Regions from separate parts of the Homo sapiens genome. Here regions 1 and 3 are each linked to region 2. Evidence: fine-mapped expression QTL. A gene starts in region 2. Each other region holds a variant in brackets. All regions are shown on one strand. Distances are between the middles of the regions.

Region 1 (8,158 bases), 31 kb after region 2:
GTTGTGTTCTAAGCACCCTGAAGGCAGGGAGCTTGGGTAACTCTGGGGCTGGAAGCCAGTCCCACCCACAAGATACCTGTCTTAGGAGCGGGCCTGGCTTCCAGGTCTAGTTCCTGGGACAAAAGTTCCCCTGCTTGAGTGAGGGCTATGCTGGGCACAGCGGGGAGGTTGGGGCACCCACCTGAGTGGCCAAACTGAGGACCTGCTGCACCAGCTCCTGGGTCTCTGTTGGCTTCTTTAGAAAGAGTTTCACAATGGCTGTCAGCAGCTGCAGCTGGACCTGCAGGGAACAGCGGTGACGAGGAGGAAGTGTGGGCCTCACATGGGGATAGAGGGAGAACAAAAAGGCTTGAAGAGGAATAGGGTGTTCAAAGTCCCTGGAAGCCAAGCATAGCTATTCTAGGTTTGGGGCTGTCACGGCACACAGGCAAAGGGCTGCCACAAGTGTTGGTGCCGCTGAGCAGCCAGACCTCGGCATCACTCACTCAGGAAGGAGCTGAATACTGGACTATTTGGCAAACCCAAGTAGGCCAGGGGCCGCTGCCCAGCCCTAGGGTTTTAGAAACCTGTTGGAGCTCTAGAATTCACAGAACTATGAGAAGCTCACATGTGTGGCTGGAGTGCTTCTTATCAGGACCATCTGTCAACAAGTGGCGACAGTCCCATGGAGGCCCAGGGGACTGGGGCAGCAGGGCCCACAGAGCCTGCCGTCAAGGACCTGTGCTTCTACCAGAGGGTTGGAACTATTCCTGGTGGCCCTCCACCGGCCCCTGCCACATGCCTGGACATACCCAAAGCTGCCCTCATCCTGGCCAACACCTCCTCACCCTTCAGATCTCATGCCAACCCCACCTCCAGACCCCCCATGCTTCTGCAGCCTCTTCCACCCCGTCACAGCGCCACCAGTTGCTGGCTATCCTGTACAGTGAGCCCCCTGTGGGCTGGAGTGATGTCTGTCTTGCTTACTGTCGTGTCACTAATTACTGCCCAATCTAGTGCCTGGTGTATAGCAGGCACTTAAGAAATACTTGCTGACTGAAGAAACATCTATGCGAGAACAAGTCTCTGCACATAATCCTTCCTTAGTCACGGTCTCATTTTTGCTAGTCCTAGGACAAGGGGGCAGCCTGATGCTCCCGGAGTCAGGGGCAGTGGGAGCCCATAGGCTGTGCCAGGGACAGGTCTGCAGCAGGAGGGCAGGAGTGGCAGTGCAGGAAGCCCAGCAGCAGCCGTGCTGACGGCATCTCTGGCACCTGCCCAGCAGGAGGGCACTTGTGCAGGGAAGGCTGACAGAGGCAGGCAGAATGGAGGGCACGTGGTCCTCCAATTCTGGGGTGAACCAGAGTCTGCAATTTGGTTACATGGGGGCCAGCAGCAGATGAGCAGTAGGCTGGCTGTTTCCAAGGCAGGAGGCAGCCCAGCATCTGGCTTCCAGACTCTAGCCCTGCCTGGGCAGCCAATGGGAAGCCGTTTACCCCCATCTGTAAAGGAGAGGTGTGGCCTACTTCAGGGATTCTTGTGAGCTTTAAAAACAGCAACTTATGGCAGCTTGCTTGGAGCTGGAGTCAGATCACACCTTATGTGAACTCCAGTTCTATCACTTCTCAGCTGACAGACCCTCGGCAAGTCATTTAGCTTCTCTGAGTCAGTTTCCTAACGTATAAAACAGTCATTACACCTCACAGCGTTAATGGAGAGTTGATGAAACCACAAATGTAAAGAAGTGGCCAGGCGTGATGGCTCACACCTGTAATCCCAGCACTTTGGGAGGCCTCGGTGGTTGGATCACCTGAGGTCAGGAGTTCGAGACCAGCCTGGCCAACATGGTGAAACCCTGTCTTTACTAAAAATACAAAAATTAGCTGGGCCTGGTGGCAGGTACCTGTAATCCCAGCTACTCGGAGGCTGAGGCAGGACAATTGCTTGAACCCGGGAGGCAGAGGTTGCAGTGAGCCGAGGTCTCGCCATTGCACTCCAGCATGGGGGACAAGGGCGAGACTTTGTCTCAAAAAAAAAAAAAAAAAGTAAAGAAGCATTGTGTATTCTGCTCACTACAGAACAGCTATCATCATCACAGTCATTATCACCACTACCATCACACAGGGACTCTTGAAAGAGTTCTTCCCAGTCCAGTCAGCCGGATGCCTGGAATTATTCATCACTGTCAGATCTGCTGTGGTTCCAGTCAGGTATGCCTCAGGCTGTATTGCCAGAGGGAGGTCTGGCCAGGTGCCCAGGGCCCTGGCTCAACAATCCGTTCCAGTTCCTCTCAACACGCTCAACACACTCAGGCCGTTAGCCTGCATATTTAGGGCAGCCTTCTGCAATAATGCCATTGCCCCTGCCATCCAGACAGGATGGGATGGCAGGACAGGGCCAGACGCTGGGCTGATATACCACCCTGGCCAAGATTTTTTTTTTTTTTTTTTTTTTTTTTTTGAGATGCAGTCTCACTCTCCTGCCCAAGCTGGAGTGCAGTGGGATGATCTCATCTCACTGCAACCTCCGCCTCCTGGGTTCAAGTGATTTTCCTGCCTCAGCCTCCCGAGCAGCTAGGATTACAGGCACACACCATCACACCTGGCTAATTTTTGTATTTTTAGATGGGTTTCACCATGTTGGCCAGGCTGGTCTCAGACTCCTGACCTAAAGTGATCCACCCACCTCGGCCTCCCAAAGTACTGGGATTACAGGCGTGAGCCCAGCTGCTGACCAAGACTTTCTAAGTCTGCTGTCCATGGCTAGAGAGGCCTAGGAGCCAAGGATGAGAAGATTCAACAAGACAATATAAAATGAGTTCCATAATTGTCAAGCCCGGTGCAGTGGTGCAGGCCCATAGTCCTAGCTATTCAGAATCCTTTGAGCCCAGGAGTTCAAGGCTAGCCTGGGCAAAACATAGTGAGATTTCGCCACTAAAACAAACAAACAAAAAACTCCAAATCGTCAAGCACTAAACAAGTATTCTTTTTTTTTGAGACAAGGTCTCGCTCTGTTGCCCAGGCTGGAGTGCAGTGGTGTGATCTTGGCTCACTGCAGCCTCAACTTCCCAGGCTCAAGCAATCCTCCCACCTAGGCCTCCCAAGTAGCTGGGACTACAGGTATGTGCCACCACACCCAGTTCATTTTTTTTTTTTTATAGAGATGAGGTCTCACTATGTTGCCCAGGTTGGTCTCGAACTCCTGGACTCAAAAGATCCTCCTGCCTCGGCCTCCCAAAGTGCTGGGTTACAGGCATGAGCTGCTGCACCCAGTTAACAAGTTTTGTTTTGTTTTTTTTCTTTTTTCTGAGATGGAGTCTCGGTCTGTTGCCCAGGCTGGAGTGCAGTGGTGTGATCTTGACTCACTGCAGCCTCAACTTCCCAGGCTCAAGCAATCCTCCCACCTAGGCCTCCCAAGTAGCTGGGACTACAGGGGTGTGCCACCACACCCAGCTAATTTTTTTTTTTTATAGAGATGAGGTCTCACTATGTTGCCCAGGTTGGTCTCGAACTCCTGGACTCAAAAGATCCTCCTGCCTCGGCCTCCCAAAGTGCTGGGGTTACAGGCGTGAGCCGCTGCACCCAGTTAACAAGTTTTGTTTTGTTTTTTTTCTTTTTTCTGAGATGGAGTCTTGGTCTGTTGCCCAGGCTGGAGTGCAGTTGTGCGATCTCGGCTTACCGCAACCTCCGCCTCCCGTGTTCAAGCGATTCTCCTGCCTCAGCCTCCTGAGTGGCTGGGATTACAGACGCACACCACCATGCCTGGCTAATTTTTGTATTTTTAGTAGAGACGGGGTTTCATTATGTTGGTCAGGCTGGTCTCAAACTCCTGCCTCAAGTGATCTGCCTGCCTTGGCCTCCCAAAATGCTAGGATTACAGGTGTAAGCCACTGTGCCTGGCCCTAACAAGTATTCTTAAAAGAGCTTTGAACTGTGTTGTGAACCAAAGATGCAAAGTGAACAGGCTACTGAATTACATCACACCCCCACTTTACAAACAAGGCCCAGCAGTCTTTGCAATAACTGCACTAGAGACAAGGAAATGGGTTTGGTGAGTTCAAGTAACTGTGCTCCAGGCCACACAACAGGGAGGAGGAGCTTGGATCTCAAACTTCAGAGCTCTGTTTCTGTTCACACCACCAGACTCTTGGCTTACCTCTCCCTGTCCAGCTTCTCTCATTCTAGCTTTTTAGCAGGCTTAGCTGCAAAAGACTGACCCTATTATAGGGGCAGAAGCACACCCCTACAGCAGCGGTTCCCAGCCTTTGTGGCACCAGGGACCAGTTTTGTGGAAGACAATTTTTCCACAGATAGGGGATGCGGGTTGGGGGATGGTTTCAGGATGAAACTGCTCCACCTCAGATCAGGCATTAGGTTCTCATAAGGAACACACAACCTAGATCCCTCTCATGTGCAGTTCATAATAGAGTTTGCGCTCCTATGAGAATCTAATGCCGCCGCTGATCTGACAGGAGGCGGAGCTGAGGCAGTAATGCTTGCTTGCCCGCCGCTCACCTCCCGCTGTGCAGCCCAGTTCCTTACAGGCCATGGTGGCCCGGGGGTTGGGGATCCCTGCACTACAGGACATCCTTGCAGTGATCCCAGGCAGGACTTGACTGCAGGAGCAGAACCCAGCATAGGCAAGCTTTGCTTCTGAGACAGAGGGAAGAGGCTGGTATTGCAAGCAAAGGCAGTCTGGAGGCAGGTGGCAGTGGGGGGGGGTGACGGTGGGAATTAGTACTGTGATTCTGAGATGGACATCTGTTGTTT[T/C]TGCTCACCCAGCATCTATTCTGTCTTCTGGGAACAGAAACACTGGCTTTCCTTCAGAGCCTCGCCCTTCTTTCTGTCCCTTTCAGTCCACACAAACTGGGATCGGTGCCTGAGAGACCTCGCCAACCAGAGTCACAGTGCCTGGCTCAGGATAATGCAAATAGGTCCTGGGACTTTTGCTGGAACTACTGAGGGGAGGGGAAAAACTCTTCCCATGGGAGTTATTGTGCCATAAGGACATAGCCTGGAACTGTTGATTCCTTACAGCTCCCACTGTTGGGAGCCTATCCATGGCAGAAGATAGCTCAATGCCACCATCCAAGCACCCTCAGCCAGGAGTCCCAGAAGAGAGCATGCTACCCACACTTGCCAGCTACCGGAACCAGTTGGTCCCCTTTTTGGCCTGGACTAGTTTGCTTTTGAAACCAATTTGGCCCAAACCAACACTACCATGAACGAGTGTTTATTATGGGCTGGCCATGTGTCAAGGACATTACACAAAGCACCCTAATTTAACTTTCGTAGCAAGAGGATGAGGGAAGATCTAATGATTCTCATTTTACAAATGAAGAAACTGAGGCTCAGAGAGTTAAAGGGATAAGCATAAAGTTACTGAGCCAGGAAGGGGCAGAGGAGGGGTATGGACTCTGGGATCTCTCATTCTAAGTCCCACACTTGGACCCACGGGATTACACAACCCCAGTTGGGCAGCAAAAATTTCTGTGCTCACCAACAGACTAACAGACAGTTCCCAGTTAACTGAGAAAAGGGAATACAAATGACAAGGCAGACATTCAGCCTCATTCATAACAGAAATGCAAACAGAACTACAGTGAGGTACCCCTGTTAGCTACTGGACTGGCAAAAACAAAGCAGAAGTAAGGAGAGGGCAATCCCAGCATCTGAGATAGGAGTCTAAACCAGCACAACCTCCACAACAGGAATCTGGCAACAGCTACCCAAATCTCAAACTCACATGCTCTTTTCTCTAAGCATCCTGCTCCTATGAATGTATCCTCCAGCTATGCCTGCAGATGTGCATTACACAGGTTATTCTCGGCAGTACTGTTTCAATGAGCACAAGACTGGACACCTAAATACCCACCAGGAGAGGATGGTTAAATAAAGCATAAATGAATGAGAGCATGGTCTTTGCAGGTGTTGGTAACAGAAAAAGGCAAGGTGCTAAACAATTTGAATTTACAGAGTATGCTACAGCAGTGTTTAAAAATAAATGAGAGGGCAGTGTAGATACAGTTGATTCTCACTACTTGAGCAATCCATGTTTGTGAATCTGCCTACTTGCTAAAATTTACTTGTAGCCCCCAAATCAAGACTCATGGTGCCTTTGCAGTCATTTGCAAATACGTGCAGAACCGTGAAAGCTTTCAGTTGCCTGACACACACATTCACAGCTGAGGTCAAATAAGGCAACACTCATGTTTCAGCTCTCATCCTGTAAACAAGCATCCTTTCCACCACCTATTTAGTGCCATGTTTTTCACATTTTTGAGCTTTTTGTTGATTTCCTTGTTTAAAATGCTCCCTAGCACTGAAGTGCTTGCCTAGTGTCCCCAAGCACAGAAGGCTGTGATGTGCCTCAGAGAAAACATGTCCTTGATAAGCTTCGCTAAGGCATGAATTACAGTATCCATGGCCATGAGTTCAATGTCAATGAATTGACAATATATATTAACTAAGGTGTTTTTAAACAGAAACACACATTTAAAAAGGTTATTAACTGATCAATTGACAAAAACGTTGGGTCTAGATGCTCACAGAAACTAAACTCTATATTTCTCCTAGGAGCTATGGTTCAGTACTTGCTAATTCAGTGTCTGCCATGACTATGGAACAGAAGCACCATGAAAAATAAGAATTGGTTGCATATGTGTGTGTATGTGTGTATAGGAAGGATGGGTGCATGTGTGTGTATCTGTGGGTCTACTGGTGTATTCCTAAATGATCTCCTGAACTTTCCTAAGAAATCAAAAAAGTGATGACTTCTGGGAGGAGAATTTGTGTCCTACAAAGTGATGAGAGGGAAACTTTTCACTATATATGCTTTTGTATCAATTTTAAACCAAGTCAATATATTTCCTATTAAAATATGACTATGGAATTAAAACAAAATGAAGAACTTTTGCCTGCCTTCCACGCACACCACCACAGACTCTCACGTGTCCCCGACTCGACTGTACTGCAGTGAGGAGGAAAAGGGGCGGTGTCCATTACGCGCACATCACTCATCTGTCTGTCAGGGCTGTTTACGAGGTAATAGGAAGGGAGGGTTTCATGGCAGTATGGGCCACAGTGGGGCTGAGCTGCCAGTCATGACTCACACCCTGGCCAGCTCGCTGGCTCACCTGTGTGCTCTCGTCATGGAAGCCCTCGAGGAAGCTCTCCAGCAGCTCATCTGCGTTGTCGATCCGTTCCGCGTACTCGCCCACAATCCAGATCATGGCAGCCCGGGCCTCAGGCTCATCCAGGGAGTCCAGATTCTCACACAGTGTGGCAATCACACTCTCATACCTGGGAGACCAGGGCACAGTTGGTATGGGAGCCCTCAAGGAGAACGGGAAACCCAGGGAAGCCAGACAGGGGCCAGGAGGGAAGGGGACCTGCCTCCTAAGACCCCAAGGTGGCAGGTAAAGGGGATCTGAGTTTTGTTTTTTTTTTTGAGATGGAGTTTCACTCTGTTGCCCAGGCTGGTGTGCAGTGGTGTGATCTCACCTCACTGCAACCTCCACCTCCCTGGTTCAAGCAATGCCCCTGCCTCAGCCTCCCAAGTAGCTGGGATTACAGGGACATGCCACCACATCCAGCTAATTTTTTTGTATTTTTAGTAGAAACATGGTTTCACTATGTTGGCTAGACTAGTCTTGAACTCCTGATCTCAGGCAATCCACCCGCCTCGGCCTCCCAAAGTGCTGGGATTACAGGCAAGAGCCACCACACCTGGCCTGGGGATCTGAGTTTCATCTGTCACACGTTAGCCCTTATTTTGGCCTGGGGAGTAGAGGAGGGGCAGTGTGGACGAAATAAAAAACAAAGGGTTTCTTTTGAGAATGACGCTTGTGGCCAAGAAGTAAGGAAGAGGAGATTCCTCCTTCCTTTTCTGCCCCGCCATCCCTGTCCCCAGGCAGAGCTAGATGCCCTCTCCCTAGGAGGGCGGGCACGCACTTGTTGGGGTACTTGCGGAAGATGTCCTTGATGACCACGATGGCCTCCTGGACCACATAGTTGACCTTGGTCTGGATGAGGTCGAGCAGCGTGCTCACACAGCGCTCCGCAGATTGCTGCATGGGAAGAGAAGAGTGTGGGCGAGGTCCCCGCACCCCATTTCCAGTAGAGCCTCTGATGTCCACGCCTCGGCCAAGGGCTGCAAATCACTTCTGGCACACCTTCCT
Region 2 (8,159 bases):
TGACTCACACCCTGGGAAAAGTTCCCGTGGGTGGGGGCGGGCCTGGCTTCCCATCTCCATGGCAACCCAACCAAACCAACAACACAGCTGGGGCGGGCCCTGTGGCTGGGCGGCAGCCAGTCCAGCTCTTGCTTCCTCTGGCCCGTCCTGGGAAGGGGGGTGTCTAGAGCCCAGGAAACTTCTTCTTCCGTGGCTTTTGGGGCCCTGGGCCGCTGGAGGAAGCTGCTCACTTCTCCCTGGAAGTCCCCAGGACAGACCGATGCCCCTGACAGCCCCGTCCACCAGCCACATACCCTGCTGTTCCTCTCCCTGCCTGTTCTGCATGCCAGTCCTTCCGTGGTACCCCATCTGTCTCTATTGTCCCCCTGCCCCAGGCCCCGGGATCAGCTGCCCCCCCATCCCCGCTCCCGCCGCTACTCCGGGGACAGTGACTCCTCAGCCTCCTCCGCCCAGAGCGGCCCCCTTGGTACCCGCAGTGATGACACAGGCACTGGCCCCCGGAGGGAGCGACCCAGCCGGCGGCTGACCACAGGCACCCCGGCCTCTCCGAGACGGCCTCCTGCCCTGCGCAGCCAGTCCCGAGACCGGCTGGATCGCGGCCGGCCCCGGGGGGCCCCAGGAGGCAGGGGAGCCCAGCTGTCGGTCCCCAGCCCTGCCCGGCGGGCCCGGAGCCAGAGCCGCGAGGAGCAGGCTGTGCTGCTTGTGCGCAGGGATCGAGACGGGCAGCACTCATGGGTGCCAAGGGGCAGGGGCAGTGGGGGCTCGGGCAGGAGCACCCCCCAGACTCCCCGTGCCCGCAGCCCTGCAGCACCCCGGCTTTCCCGGGTCTCCAGCCCCAGTCCAGAGTTGGGCACCACACCGGCCAGCATCTTCCGCACACCCCTGCAGCTCGACCCGCAGCAGGAGCAGCAGCTGTTCCGGCGCCTGGAAGAGGAGTTCCTGGCCAATGCCCGGGCCCTTGAGGCTGTTGCTAGCGTGACCCCCACTGGACCAGCCCCTGACCCAGCTCGGGCCCCCGACCCTCCAGCTCCTGACTCTGCCTATTGTTCCTCCAGTTCCTCCTCTTCGTCCCTCAGCGTCCTGGGTGGCAAATGTGGCCAACCTGGGGACTCTGGCCGGACGGCCAATGGGCTGCCTGGGCCCCGAAGCCAAGCCCTTTCCAGCTCCTCCGATGAAGGCAGCCCCTGCCCTGGCATGGGGGGGCCACTAGATGCACCTGGGAGCCCCCTGGCTTGCACTGAACCCTCGAGGACCTGGGCACGGGGTCGGATGGACACACAGCCAGACCGTAAACCCTCACGTATCCCCACGCCTCGGGGCCCCCGCCGCCCCTCCGGACCCGCAGAGCTGGGGACATGGCATGCCCTGCACTCAGTCACCCCGAGGGCTGAGCCAGATTCCTGGATGTGATGGACCAGCTCAGCTGTCCCCAGACCCCATCCCTTCTCCTTTTCCTTTGTGGCCTTAACCCTTCTGCATCAGGGAGCCCCCTCTGCCTCTTGAGTACCAGACCTCATGGGACCAGACCCCTTGGGACCACATGGCACAATGGGACCTCTGTTGTACATTCCGGTTGGGGGATGAGCGTTGCTATTTAATTACTAATATTATTGAATGCCTTAGAGGAGGCCGGGCGAGCCCGGTGTTCTGAAGACCTGTGGCCCAGCAGAGCCTCTGACAGTAAAGTTTTGCTCCAGCCACCTGTCTGTTTCTTGGGGACTCCACCTTGGGGCCATTCAGACCCTTTCGAGGACCCTGGAGTTAACTGCCTGGAGGCCAAGCCTGGCAACTCTGACCTCTAGGCTTAAGGCGTTATCCCGCCCAGCCCAGAAATCCCAGGCGCACTCAAATTATTTTCCCTTTTATTATCCCGTGGTAGGTGTGGCATAAAGAATATGTCCAGTGAAGCTCCAGGAGCAGGCTGCGTGTTTCCAGTCAAGTTCATAGCCAAGTCCTTTCCATCCAATGGGATTGTGACCCATTGAGGTCCCAGAAAGGACTGGTCATCTCCAATGGAGCTTGGGACCTGGTTGGGTCCAATGAGGTTCAAAAGGGGGCCAGTCGCTTAGGAGACTGGGTTGGAGCTTTCCTCATCCAATCAGGGCGGAGACTTCCCTGTCCAGTCCCAGTGAAGTTGGGCGATCCCGTCCAATCCAGGTCCCTGATTGTCCCAGTCACAAGGTGGGGCCCATGGATGGCACTGTCCGATCGGGTCACATGAGGCTGCAGCGCGCGGGATGCAGCGCCCCCTGCAGGCGCAGGGCCGGGTGTGCAGGGCGCGCGCGCACCAGAGCGCAGCGCAGCAGCTCGCGGAAGAGACGCAGCACGTGCCAGTTGTACTTGGCGGAGCACTCGAGGTAGCCGCAGCGCCAGCCCCTGCGCACTAGGGCGGCCAGCGCGCGCCGCGGTCCGAAGCGCAGCCGCTGCCTGTCCCGCTTGTTGCCTACCACGAGGATGGGCGCTTCGGGCGCGCCCGCCGGCCTGGGGGCCGAATGGAGATGAGAGACGCGGGGACCCCACGGCCGGAGAATTCCCCCAGTGGGTATACACACGCAGGCGCATTCCCTTCCTACGGCCAGAGACACCGCCCCCCCCGCCGCCCCAACGAAACCCCAGGCCCATGTGGGCCAAAGAGCACATACAGCTTAAGACCTTCCCACGGGCGAAGGCCTAAGACCCGGCCCACGACGTTGGGAGACCCTACACACTCTCCTCAGGCAAAGGCCCTGCCAGACCTGTCCTAGCTCCCCACCGCCAGAACTGCCGGGCCCCTACCTGGTCTCCGCGATGCGCTGCCGCAGGGCCTTCACGTAGTCGAAACTGTCCGGGCTGCAGATGTCGTAGACGAGCACGAAGGCGTCCGTGTCCTGCAAGCTCCAGTCCTTAGCGTCTGGCCACTCCTGGGGACAGGAGGCCAGGGTTTGCGGAAGCCTCCTTTCCACTCTTCCGCTCTCGAACCCTCTGCAGGGGCCTGGACGCTAATCCTCAGGCCAACATCACCCCCATACAGACCTCTGTGCCCCTCCCCCAAGCTTTCCGGGCCGTCTCCTCATGACCACCAGGGTAAAATTTTCCAAATCGTGCCTGGAGCCTGTCAGCCAGCCTCCTTCATCCTTGGTCTCCCCTCTGTTTACCCCGAATCTTCCTCTTTTCAGCTTTCCCCAACTCGGCTCAGGCCGCTCTCCTCCCTAGATGCTCTCGGTGCTTACCACGGCCTCTAAGACTAATTCCAAAGCCCTTGGCCCGAGTCCCGTGGTCCACCACGCCCCCAGATTGTCAGCTGTAACCGTTTATGACCGTAGCGTAAGCACCTGCTGGTCTTTCCACCTGGTATGTTTTTGCCACTTCCTTTACTCAGAACTTCACTCGGTCTTCCAGGTTCAGCTCAAATGCCACTCCCTCCAGGAAGCCCTGCTTAATCCTGCCTGCTCTTTCCTCTTCACTGCTCTAGGGTCGGAGGTCTGTCCTTTACTTTGCACAAATTACTAAACGAGTCTTCGCTCCAGGGGACAAAAATGATAGGGCAGAGAATGAACCCCTCCACCAGCCCCCGTAGAAAGTACACCCCTGCTCCTGACCCCAGTCTCTCCCATTGTAGCTCTGCTCAAGGCCCCAAACACAAAACGCCACACTCTCGGGAAGGCACCGTTATGCACCACCAAGAGCTGCTCCACACCCCCAGCCGAGGCAGGCAAAGGTGGAGGCGCTCACAGGAGCAAGGGAACGCCCCTGGGCAAAATCGCCCGGCCTCCAGCCTGGGCTTGGGCGTCTCCAGGTCGGCGGGAAGGGCTGAAACGCAAGTATCCCAGGACGCACACACATCCCTCCATCCCGGAGCACAGCCAGGCGCCCGAGGCCTCCACGCGGACACGCACGTGTGCACCGAGCACGCACACCCCTCACACTGTCACACGCCCCTGCCCGCTCCTCGAGCCGCTACCTCCGGACCCCCGGGGCTCGAGCCGGGGCCAGCGACGTCGCCGTCGCGGATGCTCAAGTCGTAGACGGCGCCGTCGAGCAGCACCGCGGGTCGGTAGAGGCGCGGCCCGTCCGTGGGCCGGTGGCGCTCGGGGTAGTCACCGAACAGGAACTGGCGGATGATGGCCGTCTTGCCCACGCCCGGGGCGCCTAGAACGGCCACCCGCAGGCTACCCCCCATGGCCGGCCGGCGCTGTCGCTCCCCGCGCTGGAAAGCCTCATGGGCCGGCGCCGCACCGTGCGCCCCCAGGCCGTGCGCCCCGCGCGCCCTGCCCGGTGCGCCACGGCCCCGTCGCGCTTCTCGTCGCCCCTCGGAGCACCGAGACCGGAGAGGGCAGGCCCGAGGCAGGAGCTGGCGGCGGGAGGGCAGACAGACAGCCGAGTGGGCAGACAGGTGGCGGGCGCGCGAGCGGCTCGGGCGGGTGCCGAAGCTCGAGAGAGAGCAGAGCCGGAGCGGCGCTCAGACACCGCCTCCGCCCCGCAGCGCCAACCCAGGCGCCGGCGGACGCGCGAGGCGCCGAAGTCCGCCCCTCTCGCGGCGCGGGTCCCGCAGCGGTGCGGGGCGCGGGGGGCAGCGCTGCCTCCCGGAGCCTCTGTGCCTCTATCCTTCTCTCGCTTCCGCGCCTGGAGTCGCCGCCCCAGCCGCCGGCGCGAGCGAGCGGGGCCTCCCGGAGGCGGCGATGAGGTAACCGCCCGCCCCTCCCACCTTCCCCCACCGCCCAGGACGCCCCTCCCAGGAAGGGTCGCAGGAAGGTGACTGGGGGACAGAGATCCCGGAGAGGGCCTACCCCTTCCTTACCTCCTCCGCGTGTCCCGCTCCTCTCACCCGCTCCAAAATAGAAGCCCCTTCCCACCCACTGCCGCGGCCGCTCTTCCAAACACTGCTCGCCCCCACGCTGGCTCCCGACAAGCCCCGGCCCCCGGAGTCAGGCCGCCCGGGGTCCGAATTGGGGGGGGCGGCTGTGTGACCTTGGGCGAATCGCCGCACTGCGCTGGGTCTGCGCTCCGCATCCATCACAGGCAGACTCCTCAAGAGGCTCCAACCTTTTCTTGAGAGCCTACTATGTGCCAGGCCCATTACCTACGTGATTCTCGAACCTACAGCCTCAGCCTGGCATCGCTGGTTGAGAGAAGAGGAAACAGGCCCGAGAGGGGAATCTGCAAGGTTAGAAGGGCAGTGGGGGGGCCCTTGAAGTCTCCTTTGAAGTCCCTCCTACCTTCCTCCTGCCCACGGGGGTAAATGGCCCACACTAGACAATATTCAAACAGCCGTCCTCGAGGGGAAGTGGGGACAGAGGGTGCCGAGACCACAGCAGCTTAGCCCCAGATCCCTGTCCCAGCAAGGCTGGAGGTGACTAAATAAAGATCCAGAAATTGGCCCACTCCACCTCCATCACTACTAAGGTCACCTTTCCTGCGTGAGTTGCAACCCGTAGCGCCCCTCAAAGGGATGCAACCTCCAAAACAGGCGCCCAGAGCCCAAGTTCCCCCTCCCTCGAGCTAGTGGAGAAGCTCCTGCCCCATCACAGCTTGGAAAGCCTGGGTTAGCCCAGCCCCCCCATCCTCCGCCTCTGCTCTCCTCCCCGCTGTGTGGGGGCTCCCACGTCTCTGACCTGCACATGGCAATGCTCAAGAAATGGCGGCAATGCTCAAGAAATGGCCGCAATGCACAGATCTCTGCACTGACTAAGGAGTTCATTTATTTATCCCCTCAACAAATATTCCAAATCTTATTGCTTGTCAGGAGGCTGAGATAGATTTAAAAAACAGAAAACAGGAAAAAAAAAAAAAGTTCTGCTTTGGGAGAGAAGGTTCTAGAACACATGGGATCTAGGGACTGTCAAAGCACAGACAATGTGCCCACACCAGCCCAGGGGAAGTAGAGGAGCTAAATCCTGAAGGGGGAGGAGGCACATCCTCCAGGGAGCCTGTATAATGACAACCAGAAAGTGTCTCCAGAACAATGGCTGTGCTTTCATCCTCCCATGCTAGATCGGGGGCTGGGGTCCGCTTTCACTCCTCTCCTCAGCCACTAGGAAGCTCAGAACCACCTCTGTCTAGTGTTCCAGGTCTTCTAGCTCAGTGAGTGGGGACTGCTGGCTTCATCTTTCTTTCCTACCATGATTTTTCCCTTCACTTGATGTCCTCTTTCACGTTGTAACTTTTCAGACTTCTGGGTTTTGTTGTTTGAGACAAGGTCTTGCTCTGTCACCCAAGCTGGAGTGCAGTGGTGTGATCTTAGCTCACTGCATCCTCAACCTCCTGGGTTCAAGTGATCCTCCTTGCCTCAGTCTCTCAAATAGCTGGGACTGCAGGTGTGTACTACGACATCCAGCTGATTTATTTTTATTTTTTGTAGAGGTGGAATCTCACTATGTTGCCCAGGCTGGTCTTGAACTCCTGGCTTAAGCAATCCTCCCTCCTCAGCCTCCAAAAGTGCGAGGATTACAGGCGTGAGCCACCACATCTGGCCAAACTTCTGGGTTTTTGACTTTTCAGGCTTCTGGGTTTTGTGAGCTGCTTCAATTCCTTCGGGGAACAAGGCAAGGAGTAAATAACAAGGCACTCAGCAACACAACAACAAAACCCAGAAGTCTGAAAAGCTGACACCAGGACGGTCTTTTGTTTGTTTGTTTTGAGATGGAGTCTCGGTCTGTCACCCAGGCTGGAGTGCAGTGGTGCGATCTTGGCTCACTGCAACCTCCACCTCCTGGGTTCAAGCAATTCTCCTGTCTCAGCCTCTAGAGTAGCTGGGACTACAGGCACATGCCACCATGCCCGGCTAATTTTTGTGTTTTTTAGTAGAGACGGGGTTTCACCATATTGGTCAGGCTGGTCTCGAACTGCTGACCTCAGGTGATCCACCCGCCTCAGCCTCCCAAAGTGCTGGGGTTTCAGGCATGAGCCACTGCGCCCGGCCAGGACGGTCTTTTTTAAGGTGTTCTCAATGCTAGGCGCACTCCCGCCCACCCCTGGGTATTCTTTCTCTGAAAAACTTTCCTTGCTTCTCCTTCCGACACTGCAAACAGAGCTGTGTGTGAGGCGTCTCTGGCTCCCAGTATGTGTTTTTGGATGGCGAGGGGAAGGGGCACTGTGGACTGGGAACGTCCTGAGGCTCCCATGAAGCCCTGCAAACGTGCCATGTTCCCTAGGAGACTCTCACAGCAGCGTTCCTAGCAGCAGTGCCCATTTATCAAGGGCCTGCGATGTGCCAAGCCTGACCCACAGCCTCATGCTCACTAAGGCTCCCTGGGACGCCATGATTGGGCCACAGTTGCCTAGCAGGAAAATGGCAGCACAGGGGCCGGAACCCAGGCCCTTGGGCTCCAGAGCCTGGCTGAGAAGCCTGGCTTCATCTGGACCCAGAGGGTTCTCAGGAAGTACTCAACTGAAGCTCAGCCCCCAGTGACCACTCAGCCCCCTGTCGGGAGGGACTTGGGGAGGCCTCTAGGTCCCGTGGAGCCCCCCATCCACAGGGGCTGAAATGAGCTCTAATGGGAGTGTGCAGCCCTGTGCCAGGCTTCCTAAAGACCAGCAGGCTGGGGGGCTGAAGCTGCCTGTCTGCCTGGGATGTGGATTTCAGGGTTCTCTCATCAGTCCCCTCATTCCTTCCCCAAGGAAAGGCTGTAGGCCTCCTGCCTGCTGCCCCCCTCCAATCCCTATTCCCCAGGGGCCTCCTGGGCACTCCTTGAATGCCCCTATCCAGGGCTCCAGGGACCACCTGCCAACTATGCATGCATCTTCTCCTTCAGCAGAGGGGACTGGCACTAGGCACACAGTGGCCAAGGTGGTCCTGCCTACCCTCTGTGGCAGGGAGAAAGAGACAGACATGCAGCTAGGCAGGGACGGGTGAAGACAGGAGCTCTGGGCTGGTTCAGGCCTGGGGAGATGAGGAGGCCTAGGGTAAGCACCAGTCCAGCGGGAGTTGAGGGGCTTATACTGAGCCCTGAAGGATCAAGCCACAGATAGTGGGGAGGGCTGGGCAGGGGCAGGCACCAGGTGGGGAATTCTGCTTTCCCCAGTTCATTGCCCACAGGCTCCTAACACCAGCTACCTGGCCTTCACCCATGTGTTTCTTCCCAACTGGGCCTGATTCCAGCCCATCCCTGAAGTCAGGCACCCAAGACTGCATCCAGCTCCCAGGGGGTGTTAGTTCTGGACTCCTTTGCTAGGCCACACCA
Region 3 (8,175 bases), 29 kb before region 2:
TAGCCAGGATGGTCTCAATCTGCTGACCTCGTGATCCGCCCTCCTCGGCCTCCCAAAGTGCTGGGATTATAGGCATGAGCCATTCTCGCCTGGCCTTGACCTGGTCTGTTTTTAATAAATGAGAAACATAAACCCACAAATTCTCTAAATTTATGATGCCATGGACTTACGTAAATGTTACTTCAACCTAAAACTTAACATTATTGTTAGTTTCTGGTCTTCAGCAGTCCCCTTTGAGAAAAAGCATTTATTCCCTAACAGATCACTTCTCCCGGATCACCTAAACTGGTAGCACACAATATCGCAACGCACTTTTATAGCGTTTACTGTGATGAATGGAGCATATTAATGTCTCTTCTGTGGATATGATTGATTCTCCCCCTTCCTTAGTGTTGTCTTCAAGCAAATATAGTTGGACCGACACTGAGTTTGATGTAGTTTACTTTAGGATTGTATTTATTATTGTATTTATTTCCAGGCTTAATCATAACATTGCTTATTGCTCGTAGCTTTGTAGCATTCTTACCCAGGAGTTTTGTGGTTGACCAACCACACAAAAAAAGTCACTTTTTAATTTTATTTATTATTTCTCCTCTTAGACCGCAGGATGGAAACAAGCCCACTGAGACTAGTCAACCTCAATCTAGCACAGGGGGTTACAACCAGCCCAGCCTAGGATATGGACAGAGTAACTACAGTTATCCCCAGGTACCTGGGAGCTACCCCATGCAGCCAGTCACTGCACCTCCATCCTACCCTCCTACCAGGTCAGTCTACTTTTTGTGGCAAAACAAAAACAGTGACAAAACAGTTTTTTTCAGGTTGTTGACCAGCTTGCTTTGACTTCTTCAGCTAAGGTATGTTATCTGACTGTCGCAGTGATAAGTCATCTGACCATACTTGGTTACATTAAAGCCTGAGATCTAGGGTCCCATAGTGTTGCCTGGCAGCTAATAACTATTCTTTTTTCTTTTTTTTTTTTTTTCCCCCGAGACGGAGTCTCTCTCTGTCGCCCAGGCTGGAGTGCAGTGGCGCGATCTCGGCTCACTGCAAGCTCCACCTCCTGGGTTCACGCCATTCTCCTGCCTCAACCTCCCGAGTAGCTGGGACTACGGGTGCCCGCCACCACGCCCAGCTAATTTTTTGTATTTTTAGTAGAGACAGGGTTTCACTGTGTTGGCCAGGATGGTCTCAATCTCCTGACCTCGTGATCCACCCATCTCGGCCTCCCACAGTGCTGGGATTACAGGCGTGAGCCACCGCACCCGGCCCAGCTAATAACTATTCTTTCTAAATACAAAAACATTTTTACCACTCTAAGTTCTTTCTTTAAGTTTCTTCCTTTTGCTGTTTTAGTTAACTCAGATGGGAAGCAGAAGTATATGAAAGCATGTAAATAGATGTAAGAGCCATCTTCCCCAATGCAGTTAGGATAAGTAAAGCGCAGGGCATTATAATTCACCTTAATCATTTTACATTTTACCTAACACATAAAGGTTTATTCATGCACTAACCTTTTAATGTATGGGCCAACTCTTTTTATTTTATTTTTATTATTATCGCCTGGCCAAGTTTTCTTTTTTGAGACAGAGTCTCACTCTGTTGCACAGGCTGGAGTGCAGTGGCACGATCTCCGCTCACTGCAACCTCTGCCTCCTAGGGATTCTCATGCCTCAGCCTCCCGAGTAGCTGGGACTGCAAGTGCATGCCACCACACCTGACTAACTTTTCTTTTTGTTTTATTGTTGTTTTGAGATGGAGTTTCGCTCTTGTTGCCCAGGCTGGAGTGCAATGGCACAATCTCGGCTTACTGCAGTTTCCACCTCCTGGGTTCAAGTGATTCTCCTGCTTCAGCCTCCTGAGTAGCTGGGATTACAAGTGCTCACTACCACACCTGGCAAAAATTTTTTTTTTTGTATTTTTAGTAGAGACAGGGTTTCACCATGTGGGCCAGGCTTGTCTGGAATTCCTGACCTCAGGTGATCCACCCGCCTCCACCTCCCAAAGTGCTGGGGTGACAGGCGCGAGCCCCTGCGCCCAGCCAGTTTGTTTGTTTGTTTTGAGATGGAGTTTTGCTCTTGTTGCCCAGGCTGGAGTGCAATGGCGTGATCTTGGCTCACCGCAACCTCTGCCTCCTGGGTTCAAGCGATTCTCCTGCCTCAGCCTCCCTAGTAGCTGGGATTAGATACAGACGCCACCACAACCGGCTAATTTTGTATTTTTAGTAGAGACGGGGTTTCTCCATGTTGGTCAGGCTGGTCTTGAACTCCCATCCTCAGGTGATCCGCCTGCCTCGGCCTCCCAAAGTGCTGGGAATACAGGCATGAGCCACTGCGCCTGGCCCAGTTTTTGTATTTTTAGTAGATACAGGGTTTCACAATGTTGGCCAGGCTGGTCTTGAACTCCTGGCCTCAAGTGATCCGCCCACCTTGGCCTCCCAAAGTGCTGGGATTATGGGATTACAGGTGTGAGCCACCATGCCCAGCCTGCAAGTTTTCTTAACCCATGTTTAATTAGATGTGGGTTTTCAAATTGTTTGAATTGTGCCCTGAAAGTTTTGCTAGAAGTAGCGGTTCCCTTTTTTGCACTCATTTCATTGTTTTGCAGCAGATGTGAACAGGTTTAGGAACAAGTAGAATTGATTGGGTGTCTCTCCATACAGCCAGCTTGGAGCAAAAGTGGGTAGGGCTTACAACCCTTCTTCCACAGAGCAGGTTCGTACCTATTGCATTGAGAGCAGTTAATAGCAGTTAATCTGGCAAGTTGGATAGGTACACAGTGAGAGATTATTGAATTCATACAGCAATGGTGAGGGATGTGGTGTGTTAGAAGCTTTGTTTGTTTGTTTATTTTTGGAGACCGGGTCTCACTCTGTTGTCCAGGCTGGGGTACAGTGACACAGTCGTAGCCCCCTGTAGCCTCGAACTTCCTGGCCTAGTTTAATCGGACTTTAAAATATGTGTCCTTACTGTTTCTCATCATGATTTGTAAAGCTTAATACCAGATGGGTTTTTTTGTTTTTGTGTGTGTTTTGTTTTGTTTTTTTGAGACGGAGTTTCACTCCTGTTACCTAGGCTGGAGTGCAATGGTGCGATCTTGGCTCACCGCAACCCTCGCCTCCCAGGTTAAAGTGATTCTCCTACGTCAGCCTCCCAAGTAGCTGGCATTATAGGCATGTGCCACCACACACAGCTAATTTTGTATTTTTAGTAGAGACGGTGTTTTTCCATGTTGGTCAGGCTAGTCTCGAACCCCTGACCTCAGGTGATCCACCCGTCTCTGCCTCCCAAAGTGCTGGGATTACAGGTGTGAGCCACTGCTTCTGGCCCTTGTTTTTTTTTTTTTTTTTTTGAGATGGAGTTTTGCTCTGTTGCCCAGGTTGGAGTGCAGTGGCGCTGTCTTGGCTCACTGCAGCCTCTGCCTTCCAGGTTTAAACAGTTCTCTTGCCGCAGCCTCTCGAGTAGCTGGGACTATAGGCGTGTGCCACCATACCCAGCTAATTTTTGTATTTTTAGTAGGTGGGGTTTCACTATGTTGGTCAGGCTGGTCTCAAACTCCTGACCTCAGGTGATCCACCTGCCTTGGCCTCCCAAAGTGCTGGGATTACAGGCATGAGCCTTCAAACCTGGCCAATACCAGTTCTTTTCAAGCTTCATTTCTGTGCAAGAATGTATCTATTAATTTCTCCCATGTAATTGACATAATCTTAATATTTGTCTTTCATACAATTCCTTCATTCTGAAGTTTCCTCTATTAATACTCAGATTTCATAGTTAATCAGGCATGTCTGAAAGATTGAAAGTAGCAAAGACAAATCTTTGAGGGAAAACTACTATTTTTGTGTTGAGTACCCTTATCCCTTCAGAAAATCGTTAACTCGAGATTATTGGCGGGCAGGCTTGGAACTGAATGCCTCACTTCACTCTCTCTATATTTTCTCAGTCCCCATTTCACTGGGTCAGCCTTCCCCAAGTGCATATTCTTGCCACAATACAGGAAGCATCTAAACTCCCATATTTGCCTGCCTTGAATATAGTTGAAAATGACGTTTTGTTTTGTTCTTTTGAGACGGAGTCTCGCTCTGTCGCCCAGGCTGGAGTGCAGTGGCACTATCTCGGCTCACTGCAAGCTCCGCCTCCTGGGTTCATGCCATTCTCCTGCCTCAGCCTCCCCAGTAGCTGGGACTACAGGCGCCCACCACCAGGCCTGGCTAATTTTTTGTATTTTTTAGTAGAGATGGGGGTTTCACCATGTTAGCCAGGATGGTCTCGATCTCTTGACCTCATGATGTGCCTGCCTCGGCCTCCCAAAGTGCTGAGATTACAAGCGTGAGCCACCGCACCCGGCCTGATTTTTTGGGTTTTTTTTTGGAGACGGAATCTTCACTCTGTTCCCGAGTCGCCAAGGCTGGAGTACAGTAGCGGATCTCAGCTCACTGCAAACTCCACCTCCCGGGTTCATGCCATTCCCCCAGCCTCAGCCTTCCAAAGTGCTGGGATTACAGGCATGAGCCTCCGCTCCCAGCTGAAAATGACCATTGTTTTAAATGGGAGTGGCGATTAAGAGAAAACTCTTTAAGGATTATACAGATGGTGGTTATAATATTTCCCCCTCCCAGCTGGGCACCGTGGCTCATGCCTGTAATCCCAGCACTTTGGGAGGCCGAGGTGGGCGGATCATGAGGTCAGGAGATGGAGACCATCCTGGCTAACAAGATGAAACCCTGTCTCTACTAAAAACAAAAAAACTAGCCAGGCGTGGTGGTGGGCACCTGTAGTCCCAGCTACTCGGGAGGCTGCGGCAGGAGAATGGCATGAACCCGGGAGGCAGAGCTTGCAGTGACCGGAGATCACGCCACTGCATTCCAGCCTAGGCAACA[G/C]AGCAACACTCTGTCTCAAAAAAAAAAAAAAAAAAAAAAAAAATTTTTTTGTTTTACCCTCCCATTTAATGTTTTATTCTGAACACAAAAGTATTTGCTGAGTTGAAATTCAAATTGTTGATGTGTAGAAAGTAACTACTGTTTTATGGATGTCTGTGTCACATGGTGTGAATGTCTCTTTTATTCAGGGGATTTGAAATAACAAGCCTCTTTCTAAAAAAGCTTTTTTTTTTTTCTCTTCTCTCTCTTTCAGCTATTCCTCTACACAGCCGACTAGTTATGATCAGAGCAGTTACTCTCAGCAGAACACCTATGGGCAACCGAGCAGCTATGGACAGCAGAGTAGCTATGGTCAACAAAGCAGCTATGGGCAGCAGCCTCCCACTAGTTACCCACCCCAAACTGGATCCTACAGCCAAGCTCCAAGTCAATATAGCCAACAGAGCAGCAGCTACGGGCAGCAGAGTGAGTTGCTAAGAGAGAAAACCAAATAAGAATGAATGTGTTTAGAGTTTTTTTGTGGGGTTGATTTTTTTTGTTGGTTTGTTTTTCTTTTGAGATGGAGTTTCACTCTTGGGGCTGAGGCTGGAGTACAGTGGTGCCATCTCAGCTCACTGCAGCCTCCGCCTCCTGGTTCAAGCAATTCTCCTGCCCCAGCCTCCCGAGTAGCTGAGATGATAGGCGCCTGCCACTATGCCCAGCTATTTTTTGTATTTTTCGTAGAGACGGGGTTTCACCATGTTGGTCAGGCTGGTCTCGAACTCCTGACCTCAGGTGATCCTCCCGCCTCAGCCACCCAGAGTGTTGGGATTACAGTCATGAGCCACTGCGCCCAGCCACGTTTGGAGTTTTTGAACAGGGGGAATACTCTTTGCCATTGTTTGCTTTTGGAATCCAGGACACATCTTTAGGGCATGGCATTCCAGCTAACATCTTGGATGCCCCAGTGAAGATTTCAGTGCTTTTTTCCAATTTGTTTTTAGTATGCCTTGGCAAAAAAGAAAAGAGATACTAATTGATCAGAAAAAATGTTTTAGACTGCTAGCCCTGCTGTCTTTGGGGAAGTTGTATGCAGTGAGTAAATTCAACATCGTTTTTGGCCTCCCTATCAGTCATTAATGTAAAGTGGGGAGGCAGCTATTGCAGGCCACTATGATTTTGATAGTCAAGTAAAAGCTATGTTTTTTTGTTGCTGTTTGTTTATATCCATTAAGGGGAAAAATGGCCAGGCATGGTGGCTCACACCTGTAATCCCAGCACTTTGGGGGAGGCCAAGGCAGGAGGATCACTTGAGACCAGGAGTTTGAGACCACCCTGGGCAACATAGTGAGACCCTGTCTTTTTAAAGATAAATAAAGATTCTTTAAGAAAATAGAAAAGGAAAGGGGGAAAAATAATCCTCCTCACAGAATATTTGCAGTTCTTCTGTATGGAGAGAGGTAACCAAAACACATAATTATCTTCAGAATTTAGGATCATTGCTCTTTTTAAATTACATTCTATCCACGGGGATTTCTCAACAACTCAAAGGAGTAGTGTTGATTTATGGAGCTCAGCCCCTAGCAGTGTGCTAAAGCCCTAAGAAACCTGGCTCTGTTTTCATTTCTTGAGTTTAGCTCAAAAGAAGCTGCTTTTGGAGACATCTTAGGATATAGAACCCTATAAACTATATGTTAGCCAGAGGGCTTTTTTTGTTGTTGTTATTTAGAAGAGGTTTATTATAGGCTAACTATATAAGGTTATTTCAGCTGTGATGATCCAGCAGTTTTGTTGAACTTAAAAGAGCCTACCTATTAAGGATGCTTTATCGTGATGTAAAGAAGATGGTGCCTTGGTTAGTGCCTTGGAATTGAGGATTTTGTGATTCCAGGAGAAAGTACATCAGGCAGTGGTGTAAATGCTGGTCCATGGCTTACAGATGTGACTCTTTCCTCAGGTTCATTCCGACAGGACCACCCCAGTAGCATGGGTGTTTATGGGCAGGAGTCTGGAGGATTTTCCGGACCAGGAGAGAACCGGAGCATGAGTGGCCCTGATAACCGGGGCAGGGGAAGAGGGGGATTTGATCGTGGAGGCATGAGCAGAGGTGGGCGGGGAGGAGGACGCGGTGGAATGGGGTAAGAGCAAACCTTTTCTCCTTTTACCTAATTTTGTTTCATCCATAGGATTTTCAGTGGAAAGAAGGGACTGAAAGACATAAGAAATTAATTTCTGCATTTCCATGGACAATCTGTTGAGCTCAAGCCATCTTCTAAAACATGGAAATGTCATCTTTGTGGCATATATTAAGTGGCAGTTTATTTTCTTTCCCTGCCAGTATACTTCGTTGGGTCGGGGAGAACAAAGAATGGTTTTGAAACCAGAGCTTTCAGTTCCCTTCATGGTTTCCAGAGGTGAGAAGCCTCTGTGGGTAGTAGATTTGGGATGGAACACACACAACCCTTCTAATGACCCTAAGTTGTTAACTAACTGCCTTTGAATGGTTGTCTTGAAATACCTGGTGTATATACTGCAGAAAAGGAATGCAGCTGTTTTCCACAGTGTTTGTCCCCAACTTCTGTTTGTACTCAGAATCGTTGAACATATGAAGATTTTGGTCCCATAATCCTTAAACTATAGCCTGAGGTGCACCTGATTACATAGAGTTTGGATGGAGCAAAGAAAAATCCAATAGCATTTTGCAGAGTAATGTATATAATTATGGGCTCACTTCCTACTGGAGATGTTGAAAGTCTAAATCGGTTTGACCATTTTGATTGATGGCACAATCTGGTTTAGAAAACTTTGTTTAGATCAATGACATAACCCTGCTGCCTCTGCCTGCCCTTCCCCTCCCTTCTCCCATCCCCTTTTCCCTATCTGGTGTCTGTACTTTGATGAAGGTGAGCTATAATATTGGTGGTTAACATAATCCAGAAGGCTTAGTTCTGTGTGTGTTCTGTCCCTATATAAACTGGTAAAGAAAAAAAAAAGTTATGCAGAATGTTAGATATTTACATTTGATACGGTGTGCCACTATTCAAGGAAAAATTAAATAGCATTTTTTAAAAAACAGAATGAACTTCAAAATTAAAGTTGATTTTTAACTTCCATATTAGCAAATACTCTTCACTACTGAAAGACAGTACTATTTTGCATATTCTGCATAACTTTAAGAAAGTCTTTAGTGAAATCTTTATTGGAAGAAAGTCATTTGACAACAGGCAAAAATTTAATGATTCGGTATGAAGTAAAATCAATCTTCTGATTTGGAAAATACTCTATTATAAAGGTTTCACTTCTTTTTGGATGTTTTA

Which allele goes with the higher level. Positions count from the first base shown, and alleles are read on the strand shown. Sizes are in standard deviations (SD) of each study's normalised expression. Not every link is listed here.
For the expression in caudate of the gene that starts at base 4,610 in region 2, C is the low allele of the variant in region 1 and T is the other (moderate effect, 0.52 SD a copy in GTEx).

The links. PIP is the estimated chance that this variant, and not a neighbour inherited with it, causes the effect.
Region 1: its variant is fine-mapped to the expression of RASL10A in caudate (GTEx, PIP 0.97). The same link has a PIP of 0.9 or more in putamen.
Region 3: its variant is fine-mapped to the expression of RASL10A in whole blood (TOPMed, PIP above 0.99).

Annotation. Positions count from the first base shown.
Region 1 is chr22:29,342,104-29,350,261 of GRCh38, forward strand. AP1B1 (adaptor related protein complex 1 subunit beta 1) reads right to left here. Exons shown (of 23, transcript NM_001127.4): 10 at 7,932-8,047; 11 at 7,115-7,280; 12 at 182-280. Among named protein-coding and RNA genes, the nearest start is that of SNORD125, 13 kb to the left of the region's middle. The variant T/C (reference allele first, on the strand shown) is at 4,749.
Region 2 is chr22:29,311,088-29,319,246 of GRCh38, forward strand. It overlaps RASL10A (RAS like family 10 member A), which reads right to left and starts at 4,610. Exons shown (of 3, transcript NM_006477.5): 1 at 3,941-4,610; 2 at 2,776-2,900; 3 at 1,846-2,481. The coding sequence starts at 4,159. The coding sequence ends at 2,214. It overlaps GAS2L1 (growth arrest specific 2 like 1), which reads left to right. Exons shown (of 6, transcript NM_001362985.3): 6 at 375-1,700. The coding sequence ends at 1,410. RefSeq lists enhancers at 1-54, 2,997-3,801, 3,802-4,606.
Region 3 is chr22:29,281,791-29,289,965 of GRCh38, forward strand. It overlaps EWSR1 (EWS RNA binding protein 1), which reads left to right. Exons shown (of 17, transcript NM_005243.4): 6 at 600-767; 7 at 5,133-5,344; 8 at 6,816-6,996. Among named protein-coding and RNA genes, the nearest start is that of EWSR1, 18 kb to the left of the region's middle. The variant G/C (reference allele first, on the strand shown) is at 4,880.